2 separate regions of the Homo sapiens genome follow, and region 1 is linked to region 2. The links come from fine-mapping of genetic effects on plasma protein levels. Region 2 holds a variant in brackets. A gene starts in the other region. All regions are shown on their reverse strands.

Region 1 (5,387 bases), not on the chromosome of region 2:
CCTTCTTAAAGCAGTCTACCCCTACAGAGCCTGGCTGTAATTTCCATTCTGACTAGATATCTGGAGCCCCACCATTAGCATCATTGCTTTGGTCTTAAGGATTCTCAGTCAGTCATCCAGAGCCCCCTGTGGAGTTTGTAAGACTCTCAGCACCCACCCACATTGGCCACATGGTCACCATCTAGAAGCAAGTCCATTCATTCATTCATTCAACAGTCCTGGGCATTGTGTCAGCCCTGGGACAACAGCAGGAACCAAGAAGCCCAAATTTCCATTGACATAAAAGTCATTTGGGCCACCACATGGTAAATGACAGATGTGCCACAAGTACTATAGAGGCACCAAAGAGGGCCATCTAGCCCAGCCAAAGGTGGAGAGGGAGACACCAAGCTAAGTGTTAAAAGATGAGGCATTAGTCAGCTGGAGGGGAGAGGCATCCTAATCAGAAGGTACACATCAGCAAAGGCATGAAGCTGGGAAACATTTTGGCTGGGAAAAGACAAGCTGTTCAGGTGACAGAAGAATAAAGGGCAAGCGGGAGAGGAGGATGGAGAGATAGGCAGGGGCCAGAACACACAGAACCTTCTCAGTCAGGAGCTGGAGCTTTAACCTGAAGCAGTAGGGAGCCATGGGAGCCACTGAAGGATTTTGAGCAGGGTCAGGCCCATGTGTTGGATTATTCATTCTGACAGCAGAGGCCAGAAGCTGGGGAACAGGTAGAGGCTATCCTAGGAGTCCTTGTGTGGAAGAATGAAAGAAACCTGAACCAGGATTGTGCTGAAAAGAGAAGGGGGTAGGGGTAAGGGTTAGATTTCAAGGACAATTGAACCTTCGGGGTGGCAAAACTGGTGCTGATTAGCTCTGGAGGCTGAGAGAGAAGGAAGAGTTCATGATAACCCCCACCTGCCTCACCCTGGATCCATTCCCTCTTTTGTGTTAATCAGACACTTACTGAGCACTTACTGTGTGCCAGGCATTCTTCTGAGTGCTTTACACATATTCACTCACTTAACCCTACAACCACTGTAGCTACAAGGGAATTATCCCACTGTTATCATCCCCATTTTACAGATGAGGAGACTGAGGCACAGAGAGTTTAATTTGGCCAAGGTCACAAAGCTAATAAGTAACAAAGCTAAGATTTGAACCCAGGCCATTTGGCTGCAGAGTCCCTGCCCTCACCACTGCTGAGGTTGAACCTGAGTCTTGTCCTGAATGTTTCCTGGCATCCCAGCCCCAGCCTCATCTCCTCCTCCTCATGTCACTCCCCATTAGGCAGCAGCATATCCCCTCAGTATCCCAACTGCCTCCCAGAATGTTGCCCCACTCCAAGGCGCACCTCTGTCTGAGAAGCAGCTCCCAGCCTGTGTGGCCCCCAGTCTCAGCCAGCAAGACTGTAGGGCATCAGGGATCTACAGGTGGGGAAACTGAAGTCCAACAATGAGTCACAGGCCTCAATCAGGGAGCTGTTGGCAGAGCTGCATCTGTGACGCCTGGTTTGTTGTCCACCTTTCCTCGATGTGCAGGCTGGCACAGCTGTGAACGGCAGTGCTGGGTGTGTGCAGAGCTCTTCCTAGATCTTTCTTACGTGTCATCCTGTCTGACGCCCAGGGCAGGGATCGCCAGCCCCATGTTTCCATCTGGAAACAGAGGCCTTTGAAGGGAAAGGGGTCCACCCAGAGTTACTTCAGCCAGATCACATTAGGCTGAGGTTAGAACTTAGGTTTGGGGCCCCAGGCTCACTGTTATGTTCCCCAAGGTGCATCTGTTCTCTCAGGCACCAGCTCCAGGGGTCCCTGAACACTGCCCAGCAACCTCCCCAGTCACCTGAGGGTGGCTGGAGGGGACAAGCTAGTTCAGCCCTCAGGGAGGGCAGGAAGTGGGTGAATTTCTCACTTTATCTCCTTTAATTCTGCATATAGACAGCCCGCCTCTCACCCTACCATAAATAGCTCTTCCTGACAGAAGTAACCAACCCTAAATCTGGCTTCTGTCTCCTGTGTGCATGTACATGTAATGTTTACTACATCTGCGTGTTTCACCAGGACATAAATAGTATTTTTACATGTTTTCAGACTTCATGTAAAGAGATCCTACTGTGTATTTTTTAGAGATTTTATTTCCTCCCCCATTCAGTATGATATCTGTGAGATTCAATCCACACTGGTATATACGTAGCTCTAATTCTGACCGCCTTTTACAGATGAGACACGGGATCGGCAAGGTTACAGGACTTGCCTCGAATCATAGGTCTTGTAGGTGACCGAGACAGAATTTGGACTGTGTGATCCAGAGCCCTCTCTGCTTCTGGATCCTGCTGTCACCCACCTCCTTAGCACCTGCCTCCTACTCCACGTGCCCACGCCCATCCTGCTGCCCTGCTTCCTCTTGTCCTCTCCTTGGCAGGCATGTGAAAGACCGTTTTCACAAAGGTGTTAAGAACTTCCCGGGTTCCCCCACTGAGGGCACATGCATTTGAGGAAGTGCTGGGGAAAGCTCATTGGAGTGGGAAGCCAGGGCTTTGGGTCTGGCTCTACCAGCTGTGTGACCCCAACAAATCCCTCTGAGCCTCACTTTCCTTATCTGTATTATGAGGCTGCTTATAGGGGCCTGTGAATTTTATTAGGCGGGTGCAAAAGTAATTGTGGTTTTTGCCATTTAAAGTAATGTAATACCATGTCAGGGACTCGGGGACTCTGTCACTGACCAGAAAAAGGAGAGGAATTCTGAAATAGCTTCAGCATGAGGAGCAGGGTAAGAGAGCCTGGTGACAGACCCTGGCCAGCACCCCTTCCATCCCAGCCAGCAAGGGCCGTGGCCACACTTACCATGTGCAGCATGTCTGAGGCCGTCGGGGATACCTGGGCCCGGTAGAGGTTGTGCAGCTCCACCATCAAACGTTTCTCCTCATCTGTGAGGGCTCCAACGGGGCCTGTGGTGGCCACCAGCAGTAGCAGTAGCGGCAGCAGAAGCATCAGGAAACTGCAGGAGCCGTGCATGGTGGCCAGCCGTCTCTCCTTCTCCCGTCCAGGGGTCTGGCAGCTGGATTTAAAGTCCTTCCCACACAAGCACCACCCTGGCTGGGGTGGGGCAGTGGGGGCCGTGTTTGAGGCCCAGCCCGACTCACACAATGTCTCAGGGAGGGCTGGGCGCTTTGGGTCCCGACCAGCATCAAGTGCACTCCCCTTGGAGTCCTTGGCAAAAACCTCCTTTCTCTTGGTAACGGGGGCTCAGGCCAAAAGCTGTGTGAGTTCCTAAGTTGTGGACAGATCCTTCAGGGGCAAAATCACAGTAACCTCTGCAGAGCTGTGACTGGTTGCACCCAGGTCACACCCACTGTGTGTTGAAGATAGATAAGAGAAAGGAAACCACAGACCCTACCCACAGAGGAGTGGGCAAGATGAGGAAGCTATAGGCTTTTGAAAGGACAGAGGAAGACCAGATGTATTTGATAAAAGGCTGAGCCAACCTAAATCAGAATCCTGGTTCTGCCCCTTGCTATCTGTGTTTTGGCAGCTTTCTCAAGTGAATCAGTGACAATAATAGTACCTATCTCACAGGACTAGAGGGAAGATTCAATGACATATAATGTATGTAAAGCACCTAGTATGGTGTCTGGCACATAGTAGGCCCTCAGTAACAGTAGACAACCCACTCATGTGGCCTGGGCCTTAGCAGGCTACCAGCCCCCTGTGGAGGCAACATTCTTGCCTGCGGGGGGAGAGGCCAAGGTCTTCCCCACTCTAGCTGTATTCAGGAATAAGGCCTTTCACTATGGCAAAATTTTGGCTTCCAGGTATCCTCTCTGAATGCATGTGCTTGACATGCTCATTTGGAAGTGGGATGCTGGGACCCCTGTGCTCTAACTATGTAGAAATATAATGTGTCTGTTTCTTAAATCAAGAGAGAGCAGAAAAGCAGAAGGTTGAATGAGCTGATGCACCAGGAGCTCTGAGGGGAAGGTATTGGAAGGGAAATAGCCTTAGCAGTCAGGTGCTGGCATTATAATGACCTTGACCTTGCAGGGGCCATGACCGGTTCATGAAGCAGGAAGCTGGAACCAGTACTCTTGAGGACAGCTGGGATCCTTGAAGCCTGCTTCTTCAATGAATAGGGACCTAGAAAAAGTCTACCCACAGGCTTTGGAAGATGACAAGAAAACCTGTCCCTGCCTGAGTCTCCAAGTAAAAATAAAAACAAAACCAAGATGGATTACACACACATACACACACACACACACTTATTAGAATTAATAAAGTCAGCAAAGTTGCAGGATACAAAATTAACACATAGAAATTAGTTGTTTCTATACACTAATAATGAAAAATCCAAAAAGGAAATTAAGAAAACAATTTCATTTATAAAAGCAATGAAAAAGAATAAAAAGAATAAAATTCTTACCAATAAACTTTTTTTTTTTTTTTGAGATGGAGTCTCGCTCTGTCACCCAGGCTGGAGTGCAGTGGCATGATCTTGGCTCACTGCAACCTCTGCCTCCTGGGTTCAAGTGATTCTCCTGCCTCAGCCTCCCAAGTAGCTGGGACTACTTGCCCACCATGCTGCCCACCATAGCTGCTACCATGCCCGGCAAATTTTTGTATTTTTAGTAGAGATGGGGTTTCACCATGTTGGCCAAATGGTCTTGATCTCTTGACCTCGTGATCCGCCCGCCTCGGTCTCCCAAAGTGCTGGGATTACAGGTGTGAGCCACTGCGCCTGGCCCTTAGCAATAAACTTAACCAAGGAAGCAAAAGACTTGTACGCTGAAAATCACAAGTGTTGACAAACAAAGTGAAAGAAGACACAAATAAATGGAAAGTCATCCTATATTCATGGATTAGAAGACTTGATATTGCTAAGGTGTCAATGTTGCCTGAAGCAATCTACAGATTCAATGCAATCCCTATTGAAATGCAAATCATAATATTTTTATAGAAACAGAAAAATCCATCCTAAAATTTATATGGAATCTCAAAGGACCCCAAATAGTCAAAACAATCTTGAAAAAGAACAAAATTGGAAGTCTTACAGTTTCTGATTTTAATATGTAACCACAAATCTACAATAATTAAAATAGTGTGGTATTAGTATAAAGACAGACATTTAGACTAATGGAATAGAATAGCCCAGAAATAAACTCTTACACATATGGTCAAATGATTTTAGACAAGGGTACCAAGACCGTTCAACGAGGGAAAGGCAAGTCTTTTAAAGAAGACTTAGAAAACTGGAATGTCCACATGCGAAATAATGAAGTTGAATCTTTACCGTAAGTATATTAAAAAATTAACTCCAAAATGGATTAAATACCTAAACATAAAAGCTAAAACTACAAAACTCTTAGAAGAAAATATAAGGGGGACTTCTTGGCATTGGATGTGGCAAGG
Region 2 (5,387 bases):
ACAAAAACTGGAAGCATTCCCTTTCAAAACTGGCACAAGACAGGGATGCCCTCTCTCACCACTCCTATTCAACATAGTGTTGGAAGTTCTGGCCAGGGCAATTAGGCAGGAGAAGGAAATAAAGGGTATTCAATTAGGAAAAGAGGAAGTCAAATTGTCCCTGTTTGCAGATGACATGATTGTATATCTAGAAAACCCCATTGTCTCAGCCCAAAATCTCCTTAAGCTGATAAGCAACTTCAGCAAAGTTTCAGGATACAAAATCAATGTACAAAAATCACAAGCATTCTTATACACCAATAACAGACAAACAGAGAGCCAAATCATGAGTGAACTCCCATTCACAATTGCTTCAAAGAGAATAAAATACTTAGGAATCCAGCTTACAAGGGACATGAAGGACCTCTTCAAGGAGAACTACAAACCACTGCTCAATGAAATAGAAGAGGATACAAACAAATGGAAGAACATTCCATGCTCATGGGTAGGAAGAATCAACATCACGAAAATGGCCATACTGCCCAAGGTAATTTATAGATTCAATGCCATCCCCATCAAGCTACCAATGACTTTCTTCAAAGAATTGGAAAAAACTACTTTAAAGTTCATATGGAACCAAAAAAGAGCCCGCATCACCAAGTCAATCCTAAGCCAAAAGAACAAAGCTGGAGGCATCACGCTACCTGACTTCAAACTATACTACAAGGCTACAGTAACCAAAACAGCATGGTACTGGTACCAAAACAGAGATATAGATCAATGGAACAGAACAGAGCCCTCAGAAATAACGCCGCATATCTACAACTATCTGATCTTTGACAAACCTGAGAAAAACAAGCAATGGGGAAAGGATTCCCTATTTAATAAATGGTGCTGGGAAAACTGGCTAGCCATATGTAGAAAGCTGAAACTGGATCCCTTCCTTACACCTTACACAAAAATTAATTCAAGATGGATTAAAGACTTAAACGTTAGACCTAAAACCATAAAAACCCTAGAAGAAAACCTAGTCATTACCATTCAGGACATAGGCATGGGCAAGGACTTCATGTTTAAAACACCAAAAGCAATGGCAACAAAAGCCAAAATTGACAAATGTGATCTAATTAAACTAAAGAGCTTCTGCACAGCAAAAGAAACTACCATCAGAGTGAACAGGCAACCTACAAAATGGGAGAAAATTTTTGCAACCTACTCATCTGACAAAGGGCTAATATCCAGAATCTACAATGAACTCAAACAAATTTACAAGAAAAAAACAAACAACCCCATCAAAAAGTGGGCGAAGGACATGAACAGACACTTCTCAAAATAAGACATTTATGCAGCCAAAAGACACATGAAAAAATGCTCATCATCACTGGCCATCAGAGAAATGCAAATCAAAACCACAATGAGATACCATCTCACACCAGTTAGAATGGCAATCATTACAAAGTCAGGAAACAACAGGTGCTAGAGAGGATGTGGAGAAATAGGAACACTTTTACACTGTTGGTGGGACTGTAAACTAGTTCAACCATTGTGGAAGTCAGTGTGGCGATTCCTCAGGGATCTAGAACTAGAAATACCATTTGACCCAGCCATCCCATTACTGGGTATATACCCAAAGGACTATAAATCATGCTGCTATAAAGACACATGCACACGTATGTTTATTGCGGCACTACTCACAATAGCAAAGACTTGGAACCAACCCAAATGTCCAACAATGATAGACTGGATTAAGAAAATGTGGCACATATACACCATGGAATACTATGCAGCCGTAAAAAATGATGAGTTCATGTCCTTTGTAGGGACATGGATGAAATTAGAAATCATCATTCTCAGTAAACTATTGCAAGGACAAAAAACCAAACACCGCATATTCTCACTCATAGATGGGAATTGAAAAATGAGAACACATGGACACAGGAAGGGGAACATCACACTCTGGGGACTGTTGTGGGGTGGGGGGAGAGGGTAGGGATAGCATTAGGAGATATACCTAATGCTAAATGACGAGTTAATGGGTGCAGCACACCAGCATGGCACATGTATACATATGTAACTAACCTGCACATTGTGCACATGTACCCTAAAACTTAAAGTATAATAATAATAAAAAATAAAAATAAAAAAATAAAAAATTAAAAAAAATAAAAATAAAATAAAATAAATAAAAATAAAAATAAAAAGGATCACAAGAGACTCCAATTAACAGTTATACACCAA[T/C]AATTTGGATGGTGTTCAAGTTAAATGTATAAGAGTTACAGGAAATAAAAACAACATACAAAAATTATTTGCATTTCTATATAACAACATTAAACTCTCTGAAAAGGAAATGAAGAAAATGATTATATTGATGAAAAAGCCAAACTGTGTAAAATATCTAAAGAGATTTATTCTGAGCCAAATATCAGTGAACAAGGCCCAAGACATAGTCTCAAGAGGTCCTGAAAACATGTGCCCAAGGTGGTTGGGTTACAGGTTAATTGTATATGTTTCATGGAGACATAAGACATCAATCAATACCTGTAGGATATACATTTTTTTTGGTTCAGAAAGGTGGAAGAACTCAAAACAGGGACTTCCAGGTCATAGGCGGATTCAAAGATTTTCTGATTGGCAATTGGTTGAAAGAGTCATTATTTAAAGACCTGGAATCAATAGAAAGGAGTGTCTGGGTTAAGATGAGTGGTTGTGGAGATGAAGGTTCTTATTATGTAGATGAAGTCTCAAAGGCAGCCACCCTTAGAGGCAATAGATGGCAAATATTTTCTAATTCAGTCCTTTTAAGGGTGGTAGATTCTCAACTAATCTCCTCCGGCTCAGAAAGAGACCTGCAGTTCTCTACAAAATGTAAATTTCCCCCACGAGAGAGCTTTGCCAGGCCACTTCAACATATGTCAAATAAGTATATTTTGAGATTAAATACTCAATTTCCTTTAGGGCCTGCTATTTGTCATGTGATGCTCTGCTAGGATCGGATTGAATTTGGTATCATATTGCTACAAATAATCAGGTTGTCAGTGTAAAGATCTCTGTTTTAATGTTAATGCTGGTCATTTGTGCCTGAATTCCAAAGGAAGGAGAGTATAATGAGGCATAACTGAACCCCCTTCCCATCATGGCCTGAACTAGTTTTTCAGATTTTTTTTGGAATCTTCTTGGCCAAGAGAAAGGGTCCATTCAGTCAGTTGGGGGGCTTAAATTTTTACTTTTGGTTTATAATTCTATTTATGATAGCATCAAGAATAATAAAATACTTAGGCATAAACTTAAATGAAGAAGTGAAAGACCTGTACATTGAAAACTACAAAAAAATGCTGAAAGAAATTAAAGAAAACCAAATAAATGGAAAAACACCCCATGTTAAAACCTATCAAATTTTATATATTAATTATGTGCAGCTTTTTGTGCATAACAATTACACCTTAATAAAGCTGTTAAAATAAAGGGAACATTCTGAACAATAGTAGAGGATTAAGAGAGTTGGCTGACTGCAAAGGAGAAGATTCAAGAGTTTCAGAATTCAGTGGAGAAATAAGAACTGGATCAAGGGTCAGCAAAGTCAGTTAAATGAAATAAAGAAAACATATAGAATAAGCTTTGAGATCACAACACCTTTGAGGAGATGAATACAGTAGCTGATGACCAAATGATGTAATTACCCTGGGATGGAGTGATGCTAGTGCCCGTTCACCTCTTTGTTGGCAACCGGAGACACTGTCAGTTGGATTGGATGATCACTATGCTTAAAATGTTTCTAGCATTATTACTGCAACTGCTGTGACTCTAAGGACAGACATGACAACAATTACAAAATGCCTCTTGAATCTTTTCATTTTCCTCCACATTTACCATTTTATTCTACTCCAGGCCACCATCATCTCTTACCTGGAACGTTGCAATAGCCTCCAGACTGTAATCTCTGCTTTTGATCTTCCCTAGTTCTAGGATAATTCACCAAAAGTCAACCAAATGTGGGATGGTTTATTTGCTAACTCTCTTTGAAGTATTTATTTCTTTTTTTATTCTTTTTTTTACCATTTACAGTTATGTTCACCTTGTCTCTGCCTCAGCTTCCTGGTGCAACTGTAGCCAGAAGAGGAGAGAGAAGAGGACATTGGAGTGCACGAGAAGAATATATTATAAAAGAATATTGCTTGATTAAAAAGCATTTTTTACTGGATAATACTTCTTAATTTAGAAAAATACCAAGGAGGGCTTTAAAATTGTATCTACACATTGTGGATCTCTTTCACAGTCTCTGCACTTTCCCCACATTCCCTGTGAATTTTTTGTTTCTTCTTCCTTTTGACTTATTTTTTTTTTTTACAGACAGGGTCTTGCTCTGTCACCCAAGCCAAACTGCAGAAACATGACCATAGCTCACTTTAACCCCCAACTCCTGGACTCAAGTGATCCTCCAGCCTCAGCCTCTGGAGTAGCTGGGACTATAGGCACACACCACCACAACCAGCTAATTAAAAAACAAAATGTAGAAACAGGATCTCACACTGTTGCCCAGGCTGGGCTCCACTCTTGGCCTCAAGCAATCCTCCTGCCTTGGCCTCCCAAAGTGCTGGGATTATAAACATGGGCCACCATGCCCAGCCTCTTCATCCTCTTTAAATAGTATTGTTATCACAAATGCATGTATGCCTAAAGTAGCTGTATATTTAGTTGAGCTTGTTTTACATTTCTACACACATAATATTGTTACTGAAAAAGCAGAGGTTCGGTTTAGGTCCTGTCGCTTGCCACACAGAAAGCCATTCACTGAGATGCCAATTATTGACAAGGAAGAACGCTTTAATTGGATGCTGCCGCTGACGAGATGGGAGCTCAGTCTCAAATCCATCTGCCTGACTGACTAAAACTATGGGTTTATATAGTAGGGAACAAATGCAACAATATGCAAGAAACAAGAACTAGGGAGGGGCAAGCAAGCAATCATAATGAATGAAGGATCTGGCATCTCATTGTCTGGATGTGGTGCTCTGGTGAGCTTCAGTTCTTTGGTACTTTGAGAGGCTTGAAGGTCATTTACTGAGGAAGGAACTCAGATCGAACAGATGTAAGGTTCAAGCTTTAAGACCATAAGAGTCAATTTCTATGTTTACCCAAACAACTATCTATGGGACTATTGGGTTGTTTTCAGCATTATATTGTATGTAGTCTTCTGAGTCTTGATGATTTTTATTGAACATAGGCTTCTGCGGTTTATATATGTTACTGCACACAGTAGAAATTTTTTTCATTTTCACTGTCATACAATATTCAAATATGTGACAGCACCACAATTTTTCATCTATTTCCTGTTAGACTCTGGGTGACTTTCAGTTTTCTGATAATATAAAGAGTACTGGTATACACATTTTACATATCTTGCAGTCATT

Alleles and levels. Alleles are on the strand shown, and positions count from the first base shown. The strength of an association depends on the size of the effect and on how common the allele is.
In carriers of allele T in region 2, the plasma level of the protein whose gene starts at base 3,022 in region 1 tends to be lower than with C alone (weak association).

What was found. A credible set is the group of variants that fine-mapping cannot tell apart. PIP is the posterior inclusion probability: the model's chance that the variant is causal. Protein levels are from antibody-based Olink assays in UK Biobank. Linkage for the fine-mapping came from a reference panel and not from the study's own genotypes, which makes the PIPs less certain.
Region 1: PI16 starts here. The variant in region 2 is the best candidate, but not a certain one, in a credible set for the plasma level of the PI16 protein (UK Biobank, PIP 0.55).

The regions. Positions count from the first base shown.
Region 1 is chr6:36,952,373-36,957,759 of GRCh38, reverse strand. PI16 (peptidase inhibitor 16) reads right to left here and starts at 3,022. Exons shown (of 7, transcript NM_153370.3): 1 at 2,829-3,022. The coding sequence starts at 2,999.
Region 2 is chr1:219,099,409-219,104,795 of GRCh38, reverse strand. All of the region lies in intron 3 of LYPLAL1-DT (LYPLAL1 divergent transcript), which reads left to right. Among named protein-coding and RNA genes, the nearest start is that of LYPLAL1-DT, 72 kb to the left of the region's middle. The variant T/C (reference allele first, on the strand shown) is at 2,218.